Homo sapiens: one gene and its partners. The protein of the gene in region 6 purifies or fractionates together with the protein of the main gene of each other region. This does not show direct contact. Each region holds a gene or a part of one and is shown on either strand. Other genes may lie near its edges.

What was found.
Region 1: the proteins of CLCN5 (region 6) and LYSMD4 fractionate together in Homo sapiens (co-fractionation; one large-scale study listed by BioGRID). This does not show direct contact.
Region 2: the proteins of CLCN5 (region 6) and ACVR1 purify together in Homo sapiens (co-immunoprecipitation; one large-scale study listed by IntAct). This does not show direct contact.
Region 3: the proteins of CLCN5 (region 6) and PKN2 fractionate together in Homo sapiens (co-fractionation; one large-scale study listed by BioGRID). This does not show direct contact.
Region 4: the proteins of CLCN5 (region 6) and PRKAR2A fractionate together in Homo sapiens (co-fractionation; one large-scale study listed by BioGRID). This does not show direct contact.
Region 5: the proteins of CLCN5 (region 6) and MCOLN1 fractionate together in Homo sapiens (co-fractionation; one large-scale study listed by BioGRID). This does not show direct contact.
Region 7: the proteins of CLCN5 (region 6) and SLC12A4 fractionate together in Homo sapiens (co-fractionation; one large-scale study listed by BioGRID). This does not show direct contact.

The regions. Positions count from the first base shown.
Region 1 is NC_000015.10:99,730,249-99,734,092, reverse strand, and holds the start of LYSMD4 (lysM and putative peptidoglycan-binding domain-containing protein 4), read left to right. Parts: upstream 1-2,085; 5' UTR 2,086-2,093; coding exon 2,094-2,375; exon of another isoform or gene 2,376-2,670; coding exon of another isoform or gene 2,671-2,735; exon of another isoform or gene 2,736-2,884; coding exon of another isoform or gene 2,885-2,920; exon of another isoform or gene 2,921-3,298; intron 3,299-3,844.
Region 2 is NC_000002.12:157,735,211-157,738,181, reverse strand, and holds the end of ACVR1 (activin receptor type-1 precursor), read left to right. Parts: intron 1-516; coding exon 517-651; 3' UTR 652-1,736; downstream 1,737-2,971. UniProt on the Homo sapiens protein: Bone morphogenetic protein (BMP) type I receptor that is involved in a wide variety of biological processes, including bone, heart, cartilage, nervous, and reproductive system development and regulation.
Region 3 is NC_000001.11:88,827,012-88,831,289, reverse strand, and holds part of PKN2 (serine/threonine-protein kinase N2), read right to left. Parts: intron 2,810-4,278; coding exon 2,667-2,809; intron 1-2,666. UniProt on the Homo sapiens protein: PKC-related serine/threonine-protein kinase and Rho/Rac effector protein that participates in specific signal transduction responses in the cell.
Region 4 is NC_000003.12:48,770,937-48,775,214, reverse strand, and holds part of PRKAR2A (cAMP-dependent protein kinase type II-alpha regulatory subunit), read left to right. Parts: intron 1-2,106; coding exon 2,107-2,260; intron 2,261-4,278. UniProt on the Homo sapiens protein: Regulatory subunit of the cAMP-dependent protein kinases involved in cAMP signaling in cells. Type II regulatory chains mediate membrane association by binding to anchoring proteins, including the MAP2 kinase.
Region 5 is NC_000019.10:7,528,920-7,533,197, reverse strand, and holds part of MCOLN1 (mucolipin-1), read right to left. Parts: coding exon 4,228-4,278; intron 4,098-4,227; coding exon 3,996-4,097; intron 3,609-3,995; coding exon 3,486-3,608; intron 2,913-3,485; coding exon 2,697-2,912; intron 1-2,696. UniProt on the Homo sapiens protein: Nonselective cation channel probably playing a role in the regulation of membrane trafficking events and of metal homeostasis. Acts as a Ca(2+)-permeable cation channel with inwardly rectifying activity.
Region 6 is NC_000023.11:49,925,360-49,929,637, reverse strand, and holds part of CLCN5 (H(+)/Cl(-) exchange transporter 5), read right to left. Parts: intron 1-4,278. UniProt on the Homo sapiens protein: Proton-coupled chloride transporter. Functions as antiport system and exchanges chloride ions against protons. Important for normal acidification of the endosome lumen. May play an important role in renal tubular function.
Region 7 is NC_000016.10:67,961,542-67,965,819, reverse strand, and holds part of SLC12A4 (solute carrier family 12 member 4), read left to right. Parts: intron 1-1,767; exon of another isoform or gene 1,768-1,792; coding exon of another isoform or gene 1,793-1,889; intron 1,890-2,260; coding exon 2,261-2,355; intron 2,356-4,113; coding exon 4,114-4,245; intron 4,246-4,278. UniProt on the Homo sapiens protein: Mediates electroneutral potassium-chloride cotransport when activated by cell swelling. May contribute to cell volume homeostasis in single cells. May be involved in the regulation of basolateral Cl(-) exit in NaCl absorbing epithelia.

The DNA of each region.
Region 1 (3,844 bases), on a different chromosome or scaffold from region 6:
GGCCAGTGTGTGAGAATTCTTCCACCACTTTTCATCTTAAGAAATCCTCGGCCACCTGACATTTGATAAACACGACTTAAGTTTTCTTGGTCCCTGTTGTCCGCATCCATGTTTTACACTCGTGGATTTCTGTTTTCTTCTCGGGGTGGGGCAATGCCTCCCCTGGTGCGGCCCTCAAAGGCCCAGGAGCGCAGATCCCGCCGCAGAAAGACCCCTCGCCCATCTGCGCCCAGCCCTTCCCCGCAGGAGGGCTCAGGGGACCCCACGCTACTGGAATCCACCCCGAGTCACAGCTACAGATCATTACCCACAAGTGGGGTCAAAGGCCTCTTTACGGGCGAGAAAGCTGCGGCTCAGCAGAAAGCCAAGCACTTTGGGAGGGAGGAGCTGAGGTGCCTTATTACTCCGAACAGACGCGAAAACAAGCCAGGGCCCGCGCGGGTAGACCTGGTAGGCGGGTGGGCGGGGCGAGGGCCACTTCCGGGGTGTGGAACCCTGTCGAGCCCCGCCCCGAGCCCCGCCCCGAGCCCCGCCCCGGGCCCTGTGGTCCCGGGATGAGCTCTCCGCGCAGCCAGGCTCGCTCCAGTGCCCGCCCAGCGCTGACTTCATTGGCTGCCTCCCCAGTCCCGCCCCCAGGGGGGCCCTGCTGATGTTCGTAGCCAATCCGCAGGCGCGGTGGCAGCTGCGGGTCGCGGGTCGCGGGTCGCGAGTCGCCGGTCGCCGGTCGCGGCGGAGCCTGGGCGCTGAGGTACCGGGGCCTGGACGAGGGGGCCGCGGTCTGGCTAGGGAGCCGCGCGGGCTCATGGCGGTACGGCGACCTGGCCTCGCTCGAGGGTTCGCGGGCGGGCCGCCCCTCCCCGGGCTCCTAGGGGGACGCTCCAGCTGGAGGGGCGGTGACCGCGACTGTCGTGGGCTGGCCCCAGGTGGCTAGGGTTGGGGGTCAGAGGTCAGAGGTTCTGCCCTCTGGAATGTTAGGGCCCCGCCCGTGGAGCCGTGGAGCCCTGGGGCCGGGCCGCTCCCCATTTTCCTGTCAGCTCTTGTTGAGGTGCCCCATCTTTTCGCAGAAGGGACTTGGAGGGAAGCGGGCCTGGAGCTGCTGCCGCCGCCCCTGAGCTCGGACGCGAAGGCTGGCCCCGTCCCCGGGCTGCCGCCGTGGTCCTGCAGGTGACCCTCAACCCCCCGAGGACCGCCGGCCGCCTCCCGCCTCCGGGCAGGCTCAGGAGCGCGCGGAGCGGGGTGTGGGCCTGTGACCCTCGAAGGCGTGGGCGGGGAGTAGGGGGTCGAGCTGGGGCCGCAGGCTGTCCCCGTACGGGCTGCTCCCCTGTGGCTCCGAAGCCACCTTTTTCTGAAGTTGTCAGCCCGCGTGTTTGAGATTTCGTTTCTGGAATCTCACGCGAACAATCTGGAGAGAGGAACAGGGGTCTTGCGGCTTTGGCTGTTGACTCAAGGGGAAAATAAAAACCAGACAATGGGGATGTAATGAATGCAAAGTGACCCGTGAGCAAACTGGACGCTTTTCTCCGGCTGACAGGCATGAGTTCTCCCCGTAGCTTGCCCCACATACTGTGAGTTAAACTGTGTCAAAGTAAGAGCAGTTTAGCCCCACAGTTCTGAGCAAGAGTCCTTAGCGCTGACCTTCTTAGTGAAGATACTTTGCAATGTGTAAAATATTGAATACAAAATTATTGTGCAAAGCTTCTGAGTTGAAGATTCTGAGTGCGCGGAGGCTGGCGGCAGCCCTTACTTGCCATTGCAAGGATCTCAACTTACTACTCTGAGAGCAAAAGTAGTTGTTTCTTTACAGATGTGGGTTTAGGGGAGACAGCTATGGATGAGGAACAGGGGCGGGGTTCGTTTTCTGCACAAAACGTATGCGATTAGAAAAAACAAAGGGTTTTTATTCTGCCTATCTTCTTCCATCTCAGCCAGCATAAGCACATTCTTTTTTTTCTGTTGATGATGTATGCTGAGTATTTGCAGCGATTAGGAAAAGGAATACTCTCTAACAAGACACTTCTCTTTAAACGAGGCGGTGGAGGGATGATTATGTCTTCTGTGGAATTAACCCTCCGGCTTGATTTTCAGTGAAGAAAATGAGGCACGAGGAATTGTTAACCAAGACCTTCCAAGGCCCAGCTGTTGTGTGTGGGACTCCGACCAGCCACGTATACATGTTTAAGAATGGCAGTGGGGACTCGGGGGACTCTTCTGAAGAAGAGTCTCACCGTGTGGTTTTGCGGCCCCGGGGCAAGGAGCGCCACAAGAGCGGTGTCCACCAGCCTCCCCAGGCGGGAGCAGGTGACGTGGTGCTGCTGCAGCGGGAGCTGGCCCAGGAGGACAGCCTCAACAAGCTGGCGCTGCAGTATGGCTGCAAAGTAAGACACCCCTCAGGGGCCCTGCCCCGCTCCGTTTCAAGGAACACGGGGAACTCACTGCAGGGTGGGTGCCCTTGCCGCCCTTCTTAACCCTGCCAGGCCGTCAGGAGAGGCCTGCTGTAGCAGCCAAGGACTCCCCTATTTAGCCAGAATTGGAATGCAGGTGGGAGTACCTTTAGTTCCCAACCCTGGCCCCCAAAGAGGGAGGGTTAGCGCATTTCTTTCTCTGCAGGGAACTTCTCCTTTTCCTGTTTTCTCCACACTGAAATTCTGAAACCTTTTTTCTTCTTTCGAGCACATTTTATTTTAGACCTAATGGGGCTGGAGATACCAGGCAGAATTTAATTCCGGATTTCTATGGTATGCTTGCTTTTCTCGCTGCTCTTATTTTTCTGAACCTTTCTTGGTGGTAGCTTACTTGACTTTTGGTAAAGTTTTACCTTCTCTCGTTTAGAACTGCATGGTCTTTTGTATGCTGTGTATCTATATAACCCTGTTTTTCTCTAATTATGTTTTCAGCATTCAGAGTGATTAACAATGGCAAAGTAAGTAGGAAAGTATTTCTAGAATTGCTGCATTTTCTCCTAGATTGCAACTGTTTCACTTTGCTAACACTGTGCTACAGATTTGTATGGCCTTCTCTAGGGGTATATAAGCTACTTAATTTAAGAAATCTCTTTCTCCTACAAGTGTCTTATCTAACAAGGTCCAAATGTCTGAAACATGTTGTGTGGGGTGTTGCGGTCTTTCAGGGAAATAAACAGGTTGGTCTCCGGGGACACATAGTGGTCTTTAAATTGTACTGACAATTATATTTGGCTCCGATAAGCAGCTTCTGCAGGCATACTGTGTGGCTTACAGAACATGGGCTGAAAAATGAAGCCTGTCCTACAAAGACCGGAATAGATGGAGTAGGCTTCTTGGTATGGTGATGTCTAAATCCGTAAAGAATATATAAAGCCTTTGATAAGTGATCAGTTTTCCTATTTGAAGTAAATAAATTTGCTCTTAATTTATTGAAGGCAGAGACAGAAAGATCTCAAGGGTCTCATGCATTAGATTCAGGACATAGTGAATTAAAAATGTCCCCTACCCCAAATCAGTTACAATAACAGCAGTTGCTGAATAATAATGGAAATGATTGATTTGATTGAGATCTGTTGGCTGTATTCACTTTCTAGTTTAAGTGGACTTAAGTGTTAAAAGTTTGGAGTTCATCTCTGATGCTTTTGGAAAGTTTTCAAACATTAGTTTGAGGGAGGGGTTACCCTTTGACTTACATTCTCCCTGCTTCTTAAATCTTCGTGTTTGATTATGAGAGGAGTTTGTCATGAACTTTGTTACTTGATAAAACTCACAGCATTATTCCTTTTTCCTGACAGTTAAGTACAGTAACTGTAAGTCACTTTTATTTAATAAGTTTACATGCCCCACAGTGTTTCTGGGAAAGAAAATGCCGAGGGCATATC
Region 2 (2,971 bases), on a different chromosome or scaffold from region 6:
ATCGGGAGACTCATGACTACTGCTATTAGCCCTAAGACTGCATGTATAAACCAAGAGACTTTAAGTGAAGCTTTTAACCTCCTTTCCATCTCTGTATATCTGAAATCCCAAACACAAGCTGCTGGATGCTGAAGATCCTGTATTGCTACTCATAAGTAGTAGCAGGTATAAAACAATGAGAAATGACCCTATTTGGAAATTTCAGGATTATCTCTAGGTTAGTATTGCTGCTTTTGGCACCCATAAAATCATTAAGGGGTCCAATCTGGCCTATGTCGTTTACCTAATAAATTGGTAGCATTAAGAGTCCAAAGGACAGAGTTCATGAAATTCTAAGAATGGCCTCTTTATCAGTGGTTAAAGGTTGAATATTTGCTTGAAGAAGATGACAGTAACATAACTCTAATTTCACAAGACCTGCGAGTTCTTCAGAATAGTAGACATGATATCAGCCCAGCTTCCAGGGCCATTAAAAAGCCAGTTTGTCATTGTGGTGTTTGTTCTTTCTCTCCTCAGACATTAACCTCTCTGGCCAAGCTAATGAAAGAATGCTGGTATCAAAATCCATCCGCAAGACTCACAGCACTGCGTATCAAAAAGACTTTGACCAAAATTGATAATTCCCTCGACAAATTGAAAACTGACTGTTGACATTTTCATAGTGTCAAGAAGGAAGATTTGACGTTGTTGTCATTGTCCAGCTGGGACCTAATGCTGGCCTGACTGGTTGTCAGAATGGAATCCATCTGTCTCCCTCCCCAAATGGCTGCTTTGACAAGGCAGACGTCGTACCCAGCCATGTGTTGGGGAGACATCAAAACCACCCTAACCTCGCTCGATGACTGTGAACTGGGCATTTCACGAACTGTTCACACTGCAGAGACTAATGTTGGACAGACACTGTTGCAAAGGTAGGGACTGGAGGAACACAGAGAAATCCTAAAAGAGATCTGGGCATTAAGTCAGTGGCTTTGCATAGCTTTCACAAGTCTCCTAGACACTCCCCACGGGAAACTCAAGGAGGTGGTGAATTTTTAATCAGCAATATTGCCTGTGCTTCTCTTCTTTATTGCACTAGGAATTCTTTGCATTCCTTACTTGCACTGTTACTCTTAATTTTAAAGACCCAACTTGCCAAAATGTTGGCTGCGTACTCCACTGGTCTGTCTTTGGATAATAGGAATTCAATTTGGCAAAACAAAATGTAATGTCAGACTTTGCTGCATTTTACACATGTGCTGATGTTTACAATGATGCCGAACATTAGGAATTGTTTATACACAACTTTGCAAATTATTTATTACTTGTGCACTTAGTAGTTTTTACAAAACTGCTTTGTGCATATGTTAAAGCTTATTTTTATGTGGTCTTATGATTTTATTACAGAAATGTTTTTAACACTATACTCTAAAATGGACATTTTCTTTTATTATCAGTTAAAATCACATTTTAAGTGCTTCACATTTGTATGTGTGTAGACTGTAACTTTTTTTCAGTTCATATGCAGAACGTATTTAGCCATTACCCACGTGACACCACCGAATATATTACTGATTTAGAAGCAAAGATTTCAGTAGAATTTTAGTCCTGAACGCTACGGGGAAAATGCATTTTCTTCAGAATTATCCATTACGTGCATTTAAACTCTGCCAGAAAAAAATAACTATTTTGTTTTAATCTACTTTTTGTATTTAGTAGTTATTTGTATAAATTAAATAAACTGTTTTCAAGTCAAACAGTGAAATTGTTTTTCAAAATATAAAAAAGATCTGTGTAACATTATGCATTTTCTTATGGGAGCAATAGAAGCACAAAACTAATTTGTAAATTGAATTTGCTTTTTAAATCTACTCATGAACTTATGTAAGACATCATAAGGATGTCTTACAGCTTGAATTTGGTATAAGAAAATTTGTTTCTTCCTTTGGCTGTGATTTTTTTGTTTTTTTGTGTTTTTTTTTCAGTCAGTTTCTCCAGCTGTAAGGTGAGGGTAACAAATCTCTCTGACCTGCCTTTCTCACAGGGGGGTGTTGTGAGTGTAAACGGGAAGGAGGATGTTAAAGCATTTTGTTGAGTGAAAGGTTCCACGTGAGTGTAAAGTGGTCTTATGCATCCGCCCTTGCTGCTTGGGAGAGTCCGTTCTCGGTTTTTTCACTGCTTGTACACAAGATTAAAAGGTAGAGTTAACAGTAGCCCAATAAGAGAAGAGGTGTGAACATGCCGGAATGTCTTCCAGAGGTAAGTTAATAACTTCATTAGGATGTATTTACTTGGAGGGTATATATTAGAATGACATTTTTTTAAATTACAAATCAAAATTTTAATTTGTGTTACAGATAACATAAAACTTACTAATTTTTAAGTGTATGTTAAGTGCATTCACCTTGTGCTACTATCACCATCATCTATCCACAGAACTCACGTGAAACTGAAACTATATCTGTCAAACAGTAACTCCCCATTCCTCCCTCCTTGGTCCCTGGCAACCATTATTCTACTCTGTGTCTCTGTGAGTTTGGTTACTCTAAGCACCTCATGGAATCATGTAGTATTTGTCCTTTTGTGAGACTGGTTTATTTTACTTAACATTATATCTTCAAGGTTCATTCATGTTGTAGCATGTGTTTGAATTTCCTTCCTTTTTCAGGCTGAATAATACTCCACATTTGTATATACAAACTGTTTATCCATCCATCCACTGAGGGACACTTGAATTGCTTCCATCTTTTGGCTTTTGTGAATAATGCCACCATGAACATGAGTGTGCAAATGTCTGAGTTCTTGCTTTCTATTCTCTTGGGTATATGCCCAGAAATGGAATGGCATTACATTTAACTTTTATTAAAATATTACATATATCAAAGTATACATATATAAAAGTGTACAACCTGATGAATTTTTATGAATTTATTACATCCATGGAAGCAGCACCCAGATGAGGAAGCAGAGCATGCCAGAAGTCTCCCTCTTG
Region 3 (4,278 bases), on a different chromosome or scaffold from region 6:
GAAATATCTATACATTTGTTAAAATATGTAGTATCTTTTTTCTGCAAATAGATTGTAAGCAAACAGGGCTAACAACTGAAAGCTAACAAATGTGTTTTCAGCACATTTAAAGGAAACCAATAGTCTGTTCAGATGTCAACACTGACAGTATCTAAAACCATGTCCAGCATTCTGTTCAATCTCTCTGGTATCTTCACTCCCATCTGAGACAGGAAAAAGGGGACTTGCGATGTTTGTTTATTCCTGGAGTCTTTCCAGTAATCAAAACTAGTAGAAGTATACAAATCTGAACATGTATAATATATCCGGTGAGTTTACAATTATTTGTAATAATAGAGAAATCTGACATAAACTTTAGCCACACCTTACTTTCATCATAGTTAAAAAGGAGTTATCACTAGCATTTCACTAATGCTATAAAATTATGAAGTAGACTGATGAGTTTTAAGTTTAGTTCTTTTCCCAGCTACCCTCTTGTGGAGATACTAAAGAGAAATTGCAAGAAACAACTGTGAAGAAATAGCCAGATCCACTGTCTTTTATCTTCTAGGTAATTAAGAGCTCAATCAATTAGCTCTTTTAAAAAACATGAAACAGGAGCTTCCTTGTTTTCTGCCAAACCCTCCAGTGGCTTTATAATAGGAGGGAGTAGATTCAACTGGATTAATTCTACAGTATTTTGTAATAAACTCATATTTTGCACATGTCATCTCTAATATGGAGAGTAAATTTTAAGCAAGCACATAATTGAATCTCATAAATCTCATACTTACTTGAATACTACATGAAACAAAACCAAAAAAACCCTCCAAAATGTTACTGTTAAAATAAAGGAAGGGGGTGGGGAGGAGTTCAAGTATGCCAGAGCTTACAGCAGATTAACTATTTTATGAGAACTTCTGGCACTCTCAGAAAGTAAAAGCCACTGTGGACTGGAGCTAAAATAAATCTTTCCAACCTAAACACTGCACAACAGCTTTTCTAAATAGAGGTGAAAAATTCAGATCTGGACCACTAGTCTTAAGAACAGAAACAAGGCTGGATGAATTGAAGATCCTGTCCTGGAGCAGCAAAGCATAATGCTTTAGATATGCTCTGGAGCCAGAGTGACAAGGTTAAAATTCCAGCTCCACCATATGAGAGCTGTGTGACTTTAAGCAAGTCATTAATCTCTTTGTGTCTCTATTTACACCTCCGAAAATGGGCAGAAGATCAGTACTGAGCTTATTAAAGGCTGTTGCAAAATTAAATGAACTAATATTTAAGGCATACAGTACAGTGCTTAGCACATGATAAATTTTAATTAGCCATACTTCTCCTCCTTTTCCAAGGAATCCACTTCAAATTGACATACCAAAAGGGGTTATCCATCCGGCGAAACTAAAACCATTTGTTTGGGGTAAGTGCCAATAAATGACAAGCATAGAACAAAACTTTAGAAATTTCTGATATTCAATTTGATAATTTGTTCATTCAGCACTAACTTCTTCAAACTTACAAGTGTACAAGGGAGGTTGCTGGCATGGGGAAACTGCAGAATAATGAACCAATCCCTTAAAATAATTTTTCTTGCATCTCCAGTTCAAGTCCCTTCAAGTAATCTTCAATTACTTATTAAAAGATTTACTCTTTCCCAATTTCATCCCAATTCAACATTTCTAACAATTTATAACATAATAAATTATTAGTCTCCTATTATTGCCTTAACATAACTCACTGTTTCCTAATAGTAATAATTTCTATGTACAACTCAATTATCCTCAGAAATTTAAGTTAATCTACAGAAAACAGTAGGAAAAAATGCGAATTTTTTCAACTCTACCATTTTTTAAGGTAACACTTCTTTCATTTTTTTAAAATTATATTTTATTTAACAATCTAGGAAGTTCACAGCCATCAGCAGTTCTATAGCAACTTCAGGTGCAACTGGGAATTCAGGAATCTCGGTGGAGCTGTTGGTGTAGCGAATACTTTTGATAGCACATGTGAAGGTATCTCTCTCAAATTGACCTCATTGGTTTCATTCTCAGCAAATTGACCTGGGCCACTCAACATGGCTTTTATCGTGCTGATGTTAATGTACGTTCTGTTTTTACAATAAATTCATGGCCATCGGATGATATCAATTTGACATACATGGCATCAGGGCCTTCACAGCTACCATAGGTTTTCTCCTCTCTCCATCCATTTTGTTCTTACGAAATTCTACTTTGCTTCCCCAGGAACTTCAGTAGTTTCCCGGTGAAGCAAGGATGCAGAGTGTGTTGCTCAGACGGAAGTCTGGAGGAAGTCGAAGGTAACATTTATTTCTGACCAATCTATAGTGGGCTTTTCTTTACAGGTACAGAGTACATTCCTTTTATTAGTCTTTCTGTTATTCCATTCCCTATAAAATGACTATGTCTTAAAATCAGAAAACATAATAAAAGTACAATACTGAAATACAAGGAACTATTTTCAAAGCACTGATAGTGCATTCCACAAACCACATAAAAATCTTTATTGAAGGTATTACAGAAAGATAGCTGACTACTAGTATACTATAAATATTTATAAAACTTAAATTCCACTCATACTGAAGACAGTATTAGGTGGTTTTATAAATGACATGCTTTATTATTTCAATCATCCTTCCTCTGTTCTCTTACCTATTTCACACTGCTTACCTCACCAACAAGCATTTCATATATAAGCACGCCAAGGCCCCACCAATCTACAGCCCTTGTATAAGAAGTTTCTGTTAATACTTCTGGGGCAAGAAATTCAGGAGTGCCACAAAATGTGCTTGTTCTATCTCCATATCCCATTCCTGGAAAAGATAAAATGTAAACATTTGTTAGCAAAGAAAACAAATCTAGCATAAAAAAAAAATCAAAGCTATCTTTGGGAGGCAAAATTAAAGTTGCACATTTGTGCATGGTGAACAAATTCAGACATATCTAAGACATTTCAAGAAAACAGTAAGGACTGGTATAGCAAAAACTGCAATAGCAACTATACTGTCTAATTAATGGGTAAATAGAAATAAGATATCCATGTTTCTTTTCAGTTACTTTTTCTTCTTGTCATTACAAGGGAGCTAAGAAATTATAACAAAATGAACTGATTGTGAAGTTCCATTATCTTTCCAATTCAATCTTAAATAAGTTTATTTACTTCATTATAAAATCAACATTCTAAAAAAAATAAGTTTCAAAAATACCAAAAAGCAAACCCTTGGATAATCAGAAGCTGACCAAATGTGTCATATAATACAGAGAGATAGGGCCGTGTGCAGTGGCTCATGCTTGTAATCACGGCACTTTGGGAGGCCGAGGCGGGTGGATCACCTGAGGTCAGGAGTTCAAGACCAGCCTGGCCAACATGATGAAACCCGTCTCTACAAAAAAAACAAAAACAAAAATTAGCCGGGCATGGTGGCTCCCGCCTGTAATCTCAGCTACTCGGGAGGTTGAGGCAGGAGAACTGCTTGAACTTGGGAGACGGAGGCTGCAGTGAGCTGAGATTGTGTCATTGCACTCCAGCCTGGGTGACAAGAGCAAAACTCTGTCTCAAAAAACAAACAAACAAAAAACATATATATATCTCAATATATATTATATATAGAGAGAGAGAGAGGAGGGGACGGGAGGGGAGGGGAGAAGAGGGGAGGGAAGGGAAGGGAAGGGAAGGGAAGGGGAGGGAAGGGAGAGTACAGGTTGAACATCCCTAATCCAAAAATCCAAAATCTAAAATGCTTCAAAATCTGAAACTTTTTGGGCACCAACATGATGCCATAGAGAATTCCGCAAGTACTTAAGATTAGTTTCATGCACAAAATTATTAAAAATATTATATAAATTTACCTTCAGGCTATGTATAAGGTATATATGAAACATATATAAATTTTGTGTTTAGACTTGGGTCTTGGCCTCAAGATATGTCATTATTTATATATGCAAATATTCCAAAATCCAAATAAATCTGAAATTCAAAACATTTCTCATTCTAAGCATTTTGGATAAGGGATACTCAGCCTGTATTAACATTTTGGCTAACTAGTTTTTAAATATATGTTCCTCATAATTTATTAATATGTTAATCAAATATATAGTCTACATATTGAAGATATTATCTCTATGTATTCCAAAGTGTTAAAAACTTGTCATAAGTGTCATCTTTTTAAGAATTTTAAAGAAAAGCTCTCAATCCTAAATTAAGAATAATTAGGTATGCATATATAGTGACTATAAAATAGAAATGAATGTGTGTCTATGAACCAAGACCTGAAGGGCACAA
Region 4 (4,278 bases), on a different chromosome or scaffold from region 6:
CACCCACCTTGGCCTCCCAAAGCGCTGGGATTATAGGCTTGAGCCACCGTGCCCGACCTGCTTTGTTTTAATCTTTGTTTTAACAGACTATGAAAGAAAACCCATGCATTCATATCAATACCTACAGCAAAGCATTTGACAAAATTCAACATCTTTTTGTGATGAAAATGCTCAGTAAACTAGCAACAAAAATAACTTTCCCTAACTAGACTAAAGGCATTTATTAAAAACCTACAGCTAACATCATATTTAATGGTGAAAAATTGTTTTTTCTTACAACTCAGAATAAGGCAAGGATGTTTGCTTTCACCACTTCCACTTAATATTGTACTGGAGGTTATAGTCAATGCAATAAGGCAAAGAAAGGAAGAGAGGGAGGGAGGGAGGCAAGGAAAAAAGGAAGAAAGAAAGAAAGTGTGGCATAGTACACAATGAAATACCATTTGACCATAAAAAAGAAAGAAGTCATGTCATTTGTAGCCACATGGAGGTTGCTATATTAAGGTAAATAAGATAGGCACAGGAAGACAAATACCACATGTTCTTGCTCACATGTGAATGCTAAAGAACATTGATATCGTAGACATAGAGAATAGAATGATATATACCAGAAACTGAGAAGGGTGGTGGGTGGATGAAGAAAAGTTGGCTAATGGGTACAAACACACAGTTAGATAGAAGAAATAAATTTTAATGTCTTTTTTTTTTCCTTTTTGTGGAGAGAAGTCTCCATACGTTGCCCAGGATTGTCTCAAACTCCTGGGCTCAAGCAACCCTCCCAGTTTAGCTTCCTAAAGTGCTGAGATTACAGGTGTGAGCCACTGCACCTGGCAAGTTCTAATGTTTTATAGCATGATAAGGTGACTATACTTGGGTGACAATATTTAGCATATTTCAAAGTAACTATTAATAGAAGAGAGGACATGAAATGATACTGACACATAGAAAGGACATATATCCAAGGTGATGGATACCCCAGTTACCCTGACTTAATCATTACCCATTCTATGCATGCAACAAACACTCACATGTACGCCATAAATTATGTAAAATATTATATATTAATAAAAGAAAAAAAATTAGGCCGGGCATGGTGGCTCATGCCTTTAATCCCAGTACTTTGGGAGGCTGAGACAGGAGGATTGCTTGAGCCCAGGAGTTCCAGACCAGCTTGGGCAACATAGTGAGACCCCATCTCTACAAAAATAAAATATTAGCCAGGTGTGGTGGCACACGTCTGTGGTCACAGCTACTCGGGGCTGAGGTGAGAGGATTGCTAGGGGGCTGAGGTGAGAGGATTGCTTGGGGCCAGGAGGTGGAGGCTGCAATGAGCCATGATTGTGCCTCTGCACTCCAGCCTGGGTGACAGAGCAAGACCCTGTCTCAAAAAAATATATATGTCAAAAAATGTATATATGTGTATATATATATTTATGTGTATGTATATATGTGTGTGTGTGTATATATATATATGTTTAAGTTAAAGATGGGGGGAAAAAAAGGAAGGGGCATATAGATTGGAAAGGAAGTATTAAAACTTTGTTTCAGGTGACATGATCCTCTATGTAGAAAATTCTAGCCGGGTGTGGTGGCTCACACCTGTAATCCCAGCACTTTAGGAGGCTGAGGCGGGCGGATCACGAAGCCAGGAGATCGAGACCATCCTGCTAACATGGTGAAACCCTGTCTAAAAATACAAAAAAATTATCTGGGCCTGGTGGCGCGTGCCTGTAGTCCCAGCTACTCGGGAGGCTGAGGCAGGAGAATGGCGTGAGCCCAGGAGGTGGAGCTTGCAGTGAGCTGAGATACCGCCCCTGCACTCCAGCCTGGGTGACAGAGCGAGACTCCGTCTCAAAAAAAAAAAAAAAAAAAAAAGAAAAGAAAATTCCAAGAATGCCACAAAAAGGCTACTAGAATTAATAAGTGAGTTTAGCAAGGTTATAGGACACAGTACAAAGTCAAAATACAAAAATATGTTTTTTTTATATACTAGCAAAGTTCCATTGGAAATCTCTTAAAACAACATTTTCTATTATATGTACCTGCCAGTTCTTAACATTTATTATCAGAAGTAACTAATTAAATTATTCTTTGTCATTCTTCTAGGGGAACTTATGACATTTTAGTAACAAAAGATAATCAAACCCGCTCTGTTGGTCAATATGACAACCGTGGCAGTTTTGGAGAACTAGCTCTGATGTACAACACCCCGAGAGCTGCTACCATTGTTGCTACCTCAGAAGGCTCCCTTTGGGGACTGGTGAGTGAGAGAAATCGTTCCCCTTGCAAGGCACAGTATTAATTCCCTTTCTGTGTCTCTGTCCTTGGGCTGTTGATTTACACTATATCTTACAGCCATCCTGGCTAACACGGTGAAACCCCATCTCTACTAAAAAATACAAAAAAAATAGCCAGGTGTGGTGGTGGGCATGTGTAGTCCCAGCTAGTTGGGAGGCTGAGACAGGAGAATGGCGTGAACTCGGGAGGTGGAGCTTGCAGTGAGCCGAGATCGCGCCACTGTACTCCAGCCTGGGCGACACAGCGAGACTCCGTCTCAAAAAAAAAAGCACTTTATTGTGACATCCTGATGTTAAATTAAGAGTGCTCCTGAAAGAGATACAGTGACTTAAGGATAGGTCACACACTTGGGGACTCAATGATTGAAAAACTCAAGAATAGATTTGTATAGGGGAATAATAAATAATGGGGGCCAGGCACGGTGACTCACACCTGTAATCCCAGCACTTGGGGAGGCCAAGGCGGGAAGATCACTTGAGGTCAGGAGTTCGAGACCAGCCTGAGCAACATGGTAAAACCGTGTCTCTACTAAAAATATGAAAATTGGCCAGTCATGGTGATGGGCGCCTGTAGTCCCAGGAGGCGGAGGTTGCAGTGAGCCAAGATCACGCCACTGCACTCTAGCCTGGGCGACTGAGCAAGACTCCATCTCAAAAAATACAAAATCAAATAATAAGCCTTGGTGCTAACTACTGGTTCAGACCAAGATGGAATAGCCCTATTCCATGCTAGTGTTCTCACTTAAAAACTTAAACACACACACAAACAACTATGGACATAATAGAGCAAACATAGGAAGACTCTGAAAGGTGGAAAGAAGAAGGCAGACTATCTAGGGATATTGGGGCTTGAGGAAAGACATGACAGTGAGTTCCCAGGTTCCCATATATCCCAGATGGGGTGCTGGAAAGCCTGAAATCCAGATCTTCTAACAGGTATATTCAACAAAAGCAAAACTCCATCTCAAAAACAAAACAAAACAAAAGAACGAACAGCTAAACAGAAAATCAGCTAGTGTCAGCTAGGATATAGAAGAACTTAACACCATTAATTAACAAAAGCTATCTGAAATTTATAGAACACTGCACACAGCAACAACAGAATGAACATTTTTTTCAAGCCCATGGAACATTCACCCAAATAGGCCATATCCTGGAATATAAAATAAAACTTAAAAAATGTAAAAGATTTGAAATCAGGCCAACCACAGTGGCTCAAGCCTGTTATCCCAGCACTTTGGGAGGTTGAGGTGGGAGGATTGAGTCCAGGAATTTGAGACCTACCTGGGCAGCATAGTGAGACCACATCTCTATTTAAAATTTTAAGAAATAATGAAAATTTAAAGAAAAAATGAAATCAGAATGTGTTCTCTAACTACAATTGAAAGAAAGAAACTAAAAATCAATAACAGATCTCCAGACACTTAGAAATTAAATAACATTGTTTTTGGTGTGAGCAGGGGCTAACTGCAGCCTTGACCTCCTGAGCTCAAGCAATCCTCCCACCTCAGCCTCCCAAGTAGCTGGGACTACAGGTGTGCACCACCACACCTGTCTTTTTGTTGTTGTTGTTGTTGAGACAGAGTCTCACTATGTTGCTCAGGCTGGTCTTGAACTTCTGGGCTCAAGCAGTCCTCCTGCCTTGGCCTCCCAAAGTGCTGGAATTACAGGCATGAGCCACTGTGCCCAGCCAAATAACACATTCTTTCTTTTTTTTCTTTTTTGAGATGATCTTGGCTCACTGCAACCTCTGCCTCCTGGGTTCAAGCGATTCTCCTACCTCGGCCTCCTGAGTAGCTGGGATTACAGACGTGTGCACATGTGCCACCACGCCCAGCCAATTTTTGTATTTTTAGTAGAAATGGAGTTTCACCATGTTGGCCAGGCTGGTCTCGAACTCCTGACCTCAGGTGATCTGCCCACCTCGGCCTCCCAAAGTGCTGGGATTACAGGCAAGAGCCACCGCACCCGGCCAAATAAC
Region 5 (4,278 bases), on a different chromosome or scaffold from region 6:
CAGCAGTGGGAGCAGGGCCTGAGACTGCCCACCTGAGTGGATGCATGTGTGTGATGTCTACGTGCTAAGGCAAGACAGGAAGTAGTTCCAAGGGCCTGAGTCAATGTGTCTGTGGGACAGCTGAATCCATGCATGGGGAAAAGGGGGTGTACCCATCTGCCGGTGACATTGGATGTGGCAGGGTCCCAGCCAAGGCTTCCTTCCTCTCACTCGGCCTCATGGAGGGGCCATCTTTTCTCCAAGTTTTTTCAGGCTACTAGACCTTTGCTTTAGCTATTCCTTCCCCTCGGTGCACTGCCCCTGGGCTCCCATCTCTTCAGTCTAGAGGCGATGGAAGTATTCAATATCTATGCTGTCCAATATGGCAGCCACCAGCCACACTGGCTTTTGAGCACTGGATACAGGATGGTGCAAGTCAGAGGCTAAATTTGCAATTGTACTTCATTTGAATTAAAATTTTTAAAAAATTGTTGTTTTGTCTTTGAAGCAGAGTCTCGGTCTCTCGCCCACGTTGGAGTGCAGTGGCTTGATCTCGGCTCACTGCAACCTCTACGTCCCAGGTTCAAGCAATTCTACTGCCTCAGCCTCCGGAGTAGCTGGGATTACAGGTGCCTGCCACCACGTCCGCTAATTTTTTGTATTTTTAGTAGAGATGGGGTTTTGCCATGTTGGCCAGGCTGGTCTCGAACTCCTAACCTCAGGTGATCCACCCCCACCCCCCCTCGGCCTCCCAAAGGGCTGGGATTACAGGCGTGAGTCACCGTGCCCAGCCGGAATTAAAATCAAAATTTAAATAGCTGCATAGGGCTAGAGACTAGTGATGGATAGAACATTCTAGAAGCTCTCCTGGATCTCCTGTCATACCAATCTAAAGCAGGGGTCCCTCTGCAACCTTCCACTCTTCCTTCATACCTGTTACAAGTAGGTCATTGGTCATGGGATGTCTGTTCCTGTGCCATCCTTGCCCACAGGCCTTGGACGGATCATGCACACCTGATTTTCCTCCATGCCCAGAACCCAGCACAGATCTTGGCCCTTAGATATATCTGCTGAAAGAATCCTATCTACCTGCCACTTCCGCATCCTGCTCTGTCCCCTGACCCTTGCAGCTTGCAGGGAAACCACTGTTCCCAGCCACCCTACTAAACTGAGGACAGAGGGGTTAGGAGCACGGCTTCTGGAATCAGACAGCCCTGGGTTGAGCCCAGTTTTACTGCTCAGAAGCTAACCTGGGCCGGGCACAGTGGCTCACGCCCGTAATCCCAGCACTTTGGGAGCCTGAGGTGGGCGGATCACAAGGTCAGGAGTTTGAGACCAGCCTGGTCAACATGGTGAAACCCCATCTCTACTAAAAATACAAAAATTAGCCAGGCATGGTGGCGTGTGCCTATAATCCCAGCTACTCAGTAGGCTGAGGCAGGAGAATCGCTTGAACCCGGGAGGCAGAGGTTGCAGTGAGCCGAGATTGCACCACTGCACTCCAGCCTGGGTGACACAGCGAGACTCCGTCTCAAAAAAAATAAATAAATAAAGAAGCTAACCTTGGGCAGGGTCAGAGGGAGTCGGGGGCATGGCTGGGGGCTGGGGTCAGGGTTGGGTTTTTAGAGGTCCGCCATAGGAATGGGGCCAGCTGAGGATCACCATGTTAATGGCAACGTCCCAGGGTCAATGACAAGGTCATTGAAACTGTATGACTTAGCTGGGTTCAGTGGCTCATGCCTGAAATCCCAGCACCTTGGGAGGCCAAGGCAGGTGGATCACCTGAGGTCAGGAGTTCGAGACCAGCCTGGCCAACGTGGTGAAACCCCATCTCTAGTAAAAATACAAAAATTAGCCAGGTGTGGTGGCACGTGCAAGTAATCCCAGCTACTCAGGAGGCTGAGGCACAAGGATCGCTTCAACTCAGAAGGTGGAGGTTGCAGTGAGCCGAGATCATGCCATTGCACTCCAGCCTGGGCCACAGGGTAAGATTCCATTTCAAAAAAAAAATAATAATAATAGGCTGGGTGTGGTGGCTTACGCCTGTAATCCCAGCACTTTGGGAGGCCAAAGTGGGAGGATCACTTGACCTCAGGAGTTTGAAACCAGCCTGGGTAACACAGTGAGACCCTTGTCTCTAATAAAATAAAGAACAATACTTTAATAATAAAATAAAATAGGCCGGGCGTGGTGGCTCACGCCTGTAATCCCAACACTTTGGGAGGCCAAGGCAGTAGATCTCCTGAGGCCAGGAGTTTGAGACCAGCCTGACCAATGCGGTGAAATGCCATCTCTACTAAAAATACAAAAATTAGCTGGACGTGGTGGCGTGTGCCTGTAGTCCCAGCTACTCAGGAGGCTGAGACAGAATTGCTTGAACCCGGGAGGTGGAGGTTGCAGTGAGTCAAGATCGCACCACTGCACTCCACCCTGGGTGACAGAGCAAGACTCCGTCTCAAATAAACAAATAAATAAATAAACTCTATGACTCGGTTGCCCTGTTGGCAAAGACTGACTCAGGCCCCCTCCTGGCCCAAGCCCACCTTGACATCCCCCTGCGCCCCCCAGTTCTGAACCACCCTCTTTTTGGTTTCATAGAGTCTCCCATATTCTCTCCTGGGTCTTCTCTGTTCACCCTGCGGTGTCCCCAAGACCCCCTCATGGCAGACTCCAGGGCACCCAGAGCCCGAGCTCAGGGCTGGGTGCATGCGGCTGACCTTGATGGTGTCGTAGGCGCCGGTGATGAGCGCGATGAAGAGGCTGAGCACCATGTAGATGAAGAGGCTGATGAAGGAGTAAAGGTAGAGCTGGGAGAAGAGCCACACCAGGCTGCTGCGGCCCTGCTGCGCCTGCATGGCGGCGAACGTCACAAACATGTCGTCCCCATTGATGAGCGAGAACAGGCACTCAGACACCATGGAGAGTGAGCGGAACTGCCAGAGGGGCGGCGGGGTCAGAGGGAGCCAAGGCATGGCCAGGAACCGGGGGCTGGGGTCAGGCTGGGGTCCCATGCAAATGGCTAGGAGCTGGTGGCTGGGGCCCCACATGAATGGCCGGGTCCCGGGCTGCGGTCACCATGTGAATGGTCGGGTTCCAGGCTAGGGCCCCTGTGAATGGCCGGGTCCCAGGCTGGGGTCCCACGTGAATGGCCGGGACCCAGGCTGGGGTCCCACGTGAATGGCCGGGTCCCAGGCTGGGGTCACTATGTGAATGGCCAGGTCCCAGGCTGGGGTCCCATGTGAATGGCCGGGACCACGGGTCAATGACAGGGCCACAGGGCCGACCTAGGGTCTGGGTAGATAGAGCAGGAGGGGAGTAATTCAGGTCGAAATAGGGTCATCAACAACTGTGACAACAATAATGGCACAGGGTCAGTGTCAGGGTCACCAAGGACCACAGGGGACAGTGGACAGACTCCCAGCAGTCACCAAGGGGTCATCTGGGGGTCACAGTGTCAATGACAAGGTCACAGGGTCAATGTCAGGGACATCAGGGGTTAGATGTACCTTCACATGATAGGGCCCCAGCACGATCCAGCCACAGAAGCAGTAGCCCAGGTAGATGACAGCCACGCAGCAGCAGAAGCGCATGACGCTGGGCAGGGCCACCCGCAGTGTGGCGATGAGGATCTGGGTTGGGGCAGAGGGAGCCTCGTTGAGGGTGTGGCCACAACTCAGGTCAGCTGTGGGCACCCAGATGGGGGTGGGAGGGGCGGGGCCTTGCCGAGGGCACAGCCGGTGTGGTCATGGGAGCCAGTGGGTGCCTAGAGGGGGCGTGGCCACGTCTGAGGGGGTCCGAGGGCAACGCACGGCTAGACTCAGCTGGGTGGGCACAAAGGAGCAGGCTCCCGGGGCCCCGCGCAGGTGCAGTGACAGATATATCTGGTGTGGGCAGGTAGGAGGAGGAGGCTTGCAAGGGGCCATTGGCCGGGGCTGGTGAGGGCTGCGTGTGTAGGGATTTATTTGGAGGGTGTGGAGTAACCATGTGGAAGGCCCAGCTGCATGTGCAAAACTCACATTGTAGTTGTGGAAGAAGGTCAGGTAGCGGATCACGCCCACCCACACCAGCAGCGTCGAGGTGCCCAGGAGGATGCTGCAGACGTCGTAGCTCGCCAAGTTCTGCGGGTGGGAGCTGCGTCAACCTATCTGGCCCAGCCCTTCCTTTGGGGGGCCTGGGGGAGGATATGGCCCCGGATAGGCACTGACAGCAGGGATGGGACCTGGGGCCCAGGGTGTTGGCAGGACGCACCTTGGCCTCGATGCCGATCTTCATGATGGTGCCCGAGATGGTGAGCACATC
Region 6 (4,278 bases):
TATTAAGAAACATTATATTAACCCTTCTAAATTTATGCTGTCATTTTTTCCAAATTACTTCAGCATATGTGTTAAATAAATCATTTCATTAATTTGAAGTGCTACCTTTATCCTGGTTCTTAAGTTCCATTACAGTAGAGACCATACTTGTTTCCACTGACCATTGCGTCTCTAGGGCCCAGCAGAGTGCCTGCTGCACAAGTAGTGTTCAATAAATGTTAATGGAATAAATAAACAACACCTGACAACACAAGTCTCCAACCTCAAACTGGCTGGAGGTTATTAATGATAACCCTGAGTTATCAAAAATATTAAATTATGCTCAGTACACTGTTTAAAGTGGCCAGAAAATATATTAGAGGGCTCCATTAAGTGAAGTCAAAATAATGTTGGCCCCATTTAAGAGGTATGGGAATTCAGATCAAATTCTCCATGGAGGAACCAGACAGCAATGAGCCAAGAACCTAAGGAGATTTGGGCTCCTGTAGCCCTTAGGGTTCCTCAACAAGCTCTACAGACTGACTCAGAAGCTTCCTTGAGCTGAGAACAGACTCACACATTGCCTCTTCCATGAGCCCACGGAAAGAATACTGGAATAGGGAATTAGGTGACCTGGATTTTAATACTAGCTCTAGGATCAACTACTACCTGTTTGACGTTGGGCATATCACTTAACCTCTAGGAATTGAGCTAGATGTTTGTTGTTGTTTTTTGAGATGGAGTCTGGCTCTGTCGCCCAGGCTGGAGGGCAGTGGCACGATCTCGGCTCACTGCAAGCTCCGCCTCCTGGGTTCACGCCATTCTCCTGCCTCAGCCTCCCGAGTAGCTGGGACTACAGGCACCCGCCACCATGCCCGACTAACTTTTTGTATATTTAGTAGAGGCGGGGTTTCACCGTGTTAGCCAGGATGGTCTCGATCTCCTGACCTCGTGATCCGCCCGCCTCGGCCTCACAAAGTGCTGGGATTACAGGCGTGAGCCACCGCGCCCGGCTGCTAGATGTTTTCTAAGAATCTTTTCAAGTCTAAACTTCTACTTAAAGACCCAAACAGACAACCACAGGACAGGGCTTCCAAGGACAACCTAAAATTACCTCCACAGAACAAGGTCCCAGTCCCACCCCAGGTTATAAGAAAATAATAGTGATAGTAGTAATAACGGCTATTGCTAAATTTTACTGAGCACTTATTATATGCTACACAATATTCTAAATGTTTTACTATTATAATAATGGCATACACTTATATGGCATTTACTATGTTCCAAGTGCTCTGCATATATTAGCTTAATTTCTCTTCACACCAAGCCTATCAGGTGTTCTACTTTTCTCCCTTTTCAAAAATTGATATATAATAGCTGTACATATTTGGGGGGTATATGTGATATTTTGATACACGTATACAATGTGTAATGATCAAATCAGGGTAACTGGGATATTCATCACCTCTAACATTTATCTTTTCTTTGTGTTAGAAACATTCCAATTTTTTACTTCAAGCCATTTTGAAATATATAATTATTGTTAACTGTAGTCTCCCTACTGTACTATTGAATACTAAAACTTTTTCCTTCTCTCTAGCTGTATGTTTATAACCATTAACCCACTTCTCTTCATTCCCCAAACTCCTTCCCTTCCCAGCCTCTGGAAACCACCATTCGACTTTCTACCTTCATGAGATCCACATTTTTTAACTCCCACATATGAGTGAGAATATGCAGTATTTATCTTTCTGTGCCTGGCTTATTTTACTTAACATAATGACTTCCAGTTCCATCCATGTTGCTGCAAATGACAGGATTTCATTCTTTTTATGGCTGAATAATATTTTGTTGAATATATGTAACACATGTTTTTTATCCATTCATCCAGTGATGGACACTTAAGTTGATTTCCTATCTTGGCTATTGTGAGTAGTGCTGCAATATACATGGGAGTGCAGCTCTCTCTTCAATACTGATTTCCTTTCTTTTGGCTATATACTCAGCAATGGGATGAGTTATATTACTATCTCCATTTTGTAAAGGAGAAAACTTCCACACAGAGAGATTAAGTTACTTGCCCAAGGCCTCGTAGCTACCAAGTGACAGAACCAATGGAGTAGAACTCAGACCCACACATTTAACTATCATACCACACTGCTTCCAAACTATCATCGTACTTTGCTGGTTACTTCAGAGGTTAGCCAAAACAAAGGATAAGCTGCAGTTATCCAAAGAGCTTACTTATATAGAATACTCCCCTCTTCACTAATGCTGGAAAAATGAGGTTTCACTTCAATGTAATTTTAAGCACATCTGATTTCAGGGCCTGGGCTTGCAAAATACATTATTTACTATGAAAATATGACATTTTGATTAAGAGTTGTTAAACATTAAAATGTTTTTATTGTAAAATAAATCATTAACTAGTAATGACATTTCCATTAACTACAGAGAAAAAAATACAAGCTCTTTATGCATCATTAGGAACAAAACTTTAGATCCCCATCTGTGCCAATATCAGTTCTGTACTTTCAAAACTGTCTTTGAAACATTGACCTGACAGTACATAGGTGTCTCAACCCAAACAGGTCATCCAAATCCAGTGCACCACCCCCATGCCCATCAGCTGCCTCCCATGCTCCCCATCTCAGAGAATGGCACCAGTGGCCCCCAGGCACCCAAGCTGGTAGTTAATCCAGGCCCATTTCTTGCCACATCCAGTCACAGAACATTCTAGAATCCCATTCTAACCTTACTGCCCCTGCTTCTGCTCAGACCCTTACCATCTCTCCCCTAAACTATTCCAGAAACCTCCTGACTGACTCCCAGTTTTCATCATTTCCAGCTCAGCACTGCTGCCAAAGTAATCTTTCTAAAACAAAATCTGATTATGTTACTTCCCTGTTTAGAATCTTTGTCTTCAGGATAAAGTGTAAAATCCTTCCTAGAACATACAAGGCTCTTTATTATCTGGCCTCCAACTACCTTCCCTGCTTCATCTGAGGTCGCGCCCCTACACATCTCACATGAGGCAAACAGAGCAACTTGGAACTTCCCAAACAGTGCTGCTCTGTCTGCCCAGAATGCAATTCTCTCATTTGCTCCTACTCATTTTTTTAGACCAGCTCAAAACTCAGACTTCATCAAGCTTTTCTCGGGGCTTCCCTTGCTTTTTGTACCTCTCTATTCTAACACTTATTCAACATGGCAAAATTATTTGTTTGTATGTCTGTCTTTAGATGACAAGGAATCTTCTAGCATCCTGCAACTTATTCATCTCTGTATTTCGTTTGTTGAATGAAATAATGTCTCAGGATTTAAGCAAGAATATCCAAACTGCTCTTGATAAATGCCCATTGTGTGAGTCAAAGGAAGCATACAGGCCAAATCCCGTTTCCATAAATGTCTTCTCATTGATAATCTTTATACATGGAAACTACTTGTTACATTTGTGTGCCTACATAAAGTCACAACCAACACAATGAAACATTTTTAAAAGATACATTAGACCACCAACTAACCAACCTGCTGAATATTTCTAGATATTCAAGCTATTTCATTCCACTCCATTTAAGTGGTCTTTAACTTTTTGTGGGTCACAGGCCAATTTTGGTAGTGTTTGTCTATCATTTCTTAAACCCACACTCACTTTTGATAACAATAAAAATCCCACATACCCGTGGAGACTCCTAAACCCTCCAAAGGGCACAAACCGCAACTCCGCTCAAAATAAAACATAACTTTGTATGTGGTAGGAATTCACAAGTTCATGAGAGATGTAATACATCAGCTAAGATACTACTGAGCTTTGCTCTCAGGTAGTTCATATTATTAAAACAGGCGTTTTCCTTCTCAATGTTTATATTGTATCAAATATAAACACTGTAACATTAAATATGCTCTTTCAAACTGCATACATCACAAAGTTTTTATTGGGAAGATGAAGCTGGAGAGGCAGTGACATCTGTCTCCCCAACCTTATGGTGGGGAATCTTATGATAGAAATTTGCCAGAAACAAATGAAAAACACAAATGGGAAAAAATATCCTGTCTCCTGGCATATAACCCCCAATGATCACTTATTTAAATGAAGGGAGTTCTTTTAAATGCTGCTGGCATGGCATTTTCCTACTTCTCCTACAACCCCACTTTTAAATAATTTAAACTTATAGCTAGCAGCAGCTTCTTTTTAAACTAATGTGTTTTGTCCCTGCAAAGACAAAGGGTTAAATTAAAGAACAGCTGGCTGCCTGCCATTGGCTGGGTGGGGAACGGTTGGGTGAGGGTAGAGAATAG
Region 7 (4,278 bases), on a different chromosome or scaffold from region 6:
CTACTGGAATGTTGCTGTGAGAACTAGAGACAACTTTTGGAAGGGCCCCGAGCCATCCTAGAGTGATAGCTGAAGGGACAAGGGATAGGCTAGGTCTTAGAGGACCATTTACAGGCATTTGTGGGGAGCTGCTGTGTGCTCAGCTGTATATTTTCTGGATAGCAATACAGTCTACCCAGAAAGACCAGGCAACAGTGATGGGGCAGGCTGTAGTACATGAGTTTAGAATAAATTATAATTGATTTCCAGCCTACTTCCACAAAAGAATCAGAAGAAATAGCCAACAAAAGTGTCTCCCCAAGTGATTGTTACTCTCAGGAAGATTGAAAACCATGCAGAGGAAGGGGGCAAGCACTCAGGTGAGACAGATGGTGACTTTATCTAAAGAGTAAATTTAGCTTGGAGATTCCTGGCAGCCAAAGCAGAAAGAGAAGTAAGACGAGCTGTATAACTGGCATTTTCTGACAAAATGAAGCACCTGATTTATCAAAGGGAGACACTTTTTTTGTCACAAAAATCCAAAAGTAATTTTCAAAGGCTTTTCACTGAAGAGCCATTAATGTCATTAATGTAAGAGGCAGAGTGTTACTGGGTTTTCAGATTTTTCTTGGGACTCCTTCTGATCCTGAACAAGCATGGAGGGTACAGCAGATATCATAGAGTGTCCGACATGACCCCGCCTGGCTTTAACATGACACGGTGGACTGTCTTGACCTCTGGCTGCCTTTGTCCACTGTGCCATTGGCATTGACCTATGTGAATGTGGGGCTGAGCTGCTTGGCTCACTTAGCTAGTCCAGGTTGCTGGGTGTAGCAGGTGTGCCACTTTCACATGCTGTGGGAAGGAAGAACTGACTTTGCCCCAGAAACTGTCATGGGCACACTTGATTTGTTAGTTTCCTTGGGGGATAAAGAATCCACAGCACAGCACCTGCTGAGTGGTTGTTGGCTCAGAGAAAGCAATTGAAGCCTCATGCTGATAGCAAGAGATGTATCAGATACAGGAGGATGCCTCAATCAGCATTCTCAGCTGCAGTCAAGAAAAATGAATTGTGGCCTATGTAAACAGAAAAGGTTGGCGGGCATGGCCAGTGCATGGCCCAATCACACCACTAGCCTGGGCTGGTGGTGACAGTTCTGTTGCCATCTCCATCACTGGACACCATGCCAGTCCTTCTCATGTCAGAACTACATACTGCTGCCATCCAACACCAAGATGTGTGCTTTCCATTTGCTGTGAGGCCTTGAGCCAGGGCCGGGGCTGCGAGGGTAGCTGGGGTGGAGGGAACACTCAGCACCTAGAAAACGAGTGCTTGGCGTTCTGCTTGGTGGGAAGCTGGGAATGGCACCCACCGAGACTCATAAGGGACAAGAGTTGGAAAACAGGGAAGAATGAATGATAGGAGGCCAGAAAAAACAGTCGAGCTTTGGGAGTTGAGGCAGGCTTATTGAAAAGGAGCATTTCACTCCTTTTGGCGAGATTTCTCAGAGCTGGGGCACTGGCTCATCAGCCTAGGGCTGTAGGCGGAGGTTTGCCTGGGGCAAGCGGCGGGATCTGCGGGCAAGGGGGCCATTGTGTTGCTCCTGCCAGCAGTCCCAGCTCCCATTTTTCTCCCTGCTCAGTCCGACACCCACCCGTCCGACTTTCTTAGGCAACCCTAGAAGGCTCCTGGAATCCACTTCCGCTCTCCACGGCCTGGGGCTTGCCCCACCTCCCGGCATGCCCCGGGCTGCCCTGCAGGACGCCCCCCGCGCAGTGCATGGTGGGGTAGCCAGCCGGCCACCTTTGGGCCATGGCAGCCGAAGGTGCTGTGTGCGGCTTCGTCTATCTGGAGGGCACTGCCTGGGCGGTCCCTGAGGACACCGAACCCTTGGCATCCTGCACATTGGGTACTCCGGAAAGACCGGGAAAGGGACTGGGGCGTGGAGGCGATCTGGGGGCGGGTCAAACGCTGGCCCCGCCCCTCTGCAGGCCCCGTCCCTCAGTGTCCATACGTGCTTGTGCTAGGGCGCCTGCGCCCTCACCTGGATTCCCTTCACTGGAGGGAATGATGTCCCAGGTTTTGGTCACTGGCCTCTCTCTGGCTATCCCTGGGCCTTCAAGAGCATTGGCACGGTGCCATGTGAAAACTGAGTTGCAACCTGGTGACACTGCAGCTCCAAAGTGCTCCACAGAAATGATTTGGGGACTGGCTTTCTGGGAAGGGGCCCAGGCTGGGGGGCTCAGGAAGCAGGCCCTGATTGTCCCTCTCTCTTCACAGGACATGGCAACCACAGAGAGAGCAGCCCTTTTCTTTCCCCCTTGGAGGCTTCCAGAGGAATTGACTACTATGACAGGAACCTGGCACTGTTTGAGGTAGCTGAGGAGCCATTTTGGGCCACAGGTTTGGCACACAGAGGCTTTAGCTAAGCAGGCAGGCTGGACACGTGGGCCTCCTCTGTCTTGCTCTTCCTCTCATCTCCTCTTGTGTTCCTGGTTCTCATGGCAGCCGGGCTGCAGTTCCCTTGGCCCTTTCAACTGAAACTGCCTTTCCAGAGGCCACTCACAATCCCACCCCCATTGCTACCTCCAGGGTGGTTCACCTCTGACTTCCTTACAACCCCTCAGCAAGGAAACGCCCGCTTAGGATTTCCCAACTCAGGATTTCTCCTCTTCCTTCCACTCCTGGTTCTTCTCCAAGTCCATGGTTCTTCGCTCTCCCATGGATTCTTCCTTGTCTTTCTTGGTTGACCCTTCCAGCTCTGTCCCTCTCTAGTTCCCTGAGTCCTGGTCCATTTGCAGCTTTAGGGGATACGTCTCTGGAAAGATTCCCAAATATCTGCCTCTGTACTTGAGTTTTATCTTCTTCAGACTCAAGCTGAGCAGTGAGATCTGGATTTAAGACGTAGTTTAAGCTCCTAAACTCTGACCCATGCATTCAGCCACTGCATGGCTGAGTAATGGAGACTCCTTAATCTGCCTTTTTTTTCTCTTTCTTCATTTTGAGATGGAGTCTCACTCTGTCGCCCCAGGCTGGAGTGCAGTGACGCGATCTCAGCTCATTGCAACCTCTGCCTTCCAAGCTCAGCGATTCTCCTGCCTCAGCCTCCCGAGTAGCTGGGATTACAGGTGCCCACCACATGCCTGGCTAATTTTTGTGTTTTTAGAGACGGGGTTTCACCGTGTTGGCCAGGCTGGTCTTGAACTCCTGACTTCTAGTGATCCTCCTGCTCAGCCTCTCAAAGTGCTGGAATTACTGCTGTGAGCCACCACATCTGGCCGAGGCTCCTTAATCTCCACATGCCCCCAAGGGCCCTCGTCTTCCTTTCTCACACCAAAGCAACTTCTCCCTGTGTGTAGGTCAGAAAGGAGCTGACAGAGAGGGAAAAGCTAAATGTGGGCAGGAGGCAGGTAGAAGCACAGCCTCGAGAAGGCTGCAGGAGCAGGGATCATCGCCTAGACCCCGGTGGGGCTGGGGGACCTGAGCTCTGGGAGGCCTCCTGACCTGGGAAAGCAGCAAGGTTCTGCGGTGAAGGCCTTGGCCCAGCCCCGCCTGAGGATGGGCTGGAGGATCAGGATCCCATCTCCGCGATTGATGTGGGTACTTGCAGGACTGGGGTCAGGGGAAGACCATCCAGGGAGATCAGGGTTTGGGCAGACAAGGGAGACTTCACTTGTCCCAGACATCACTCTTTTGCCCTCTTTGGTTCCCTGAGGTGACTAGAGTGGCTTTTTTGTGGGGAGGGTAGGCGTGAGTCCTAGAGGTGCAGCCATAGCCAGGAGGTGGCTGGGCAGAGCAGGCAGGATGAAGTATGCCATTGCCCCCCTGCCAGCCGTGTTCTTCCCTGCCCTCTCTCCCCTGAGGCAGGTGGTTTTCACAAATGGGCTGGCAGTGATTGTAGCCAAGGCGGGGTAGAGAGAAGCAGCCGCGGGGCTGGGCCTTTGAGTGCCACGTGCTGGGGTGTGGTGTGCACACCTGTCCAGTTGGATGGCTTGGACTTCCCCAGGTAGGAACTGGGATCAGGCCCAGGCCTGTCTCAGGGCTTGGAACAGGGCCAGGGACCAGGCAGCTGGCTCCACACAGCTGGCACCCACCTGGCCCAATGCCATCTTGCCCTGTGGCTCTGTTTGCAGGAAGAGCTGGACATCCGCCCAAAGGTATCGTCTCTTCTGGGAAAGCTCGTCAGCTACACCAACCTCACCCAGGGCGCCAAAGAGCATGAGGAGGCCGAGAGTGGGGAGGGCACCCGCCGGAGGGCAGCCGAGGTGAGCTGGTTGGGGCGGCAGAGGGGCCACACC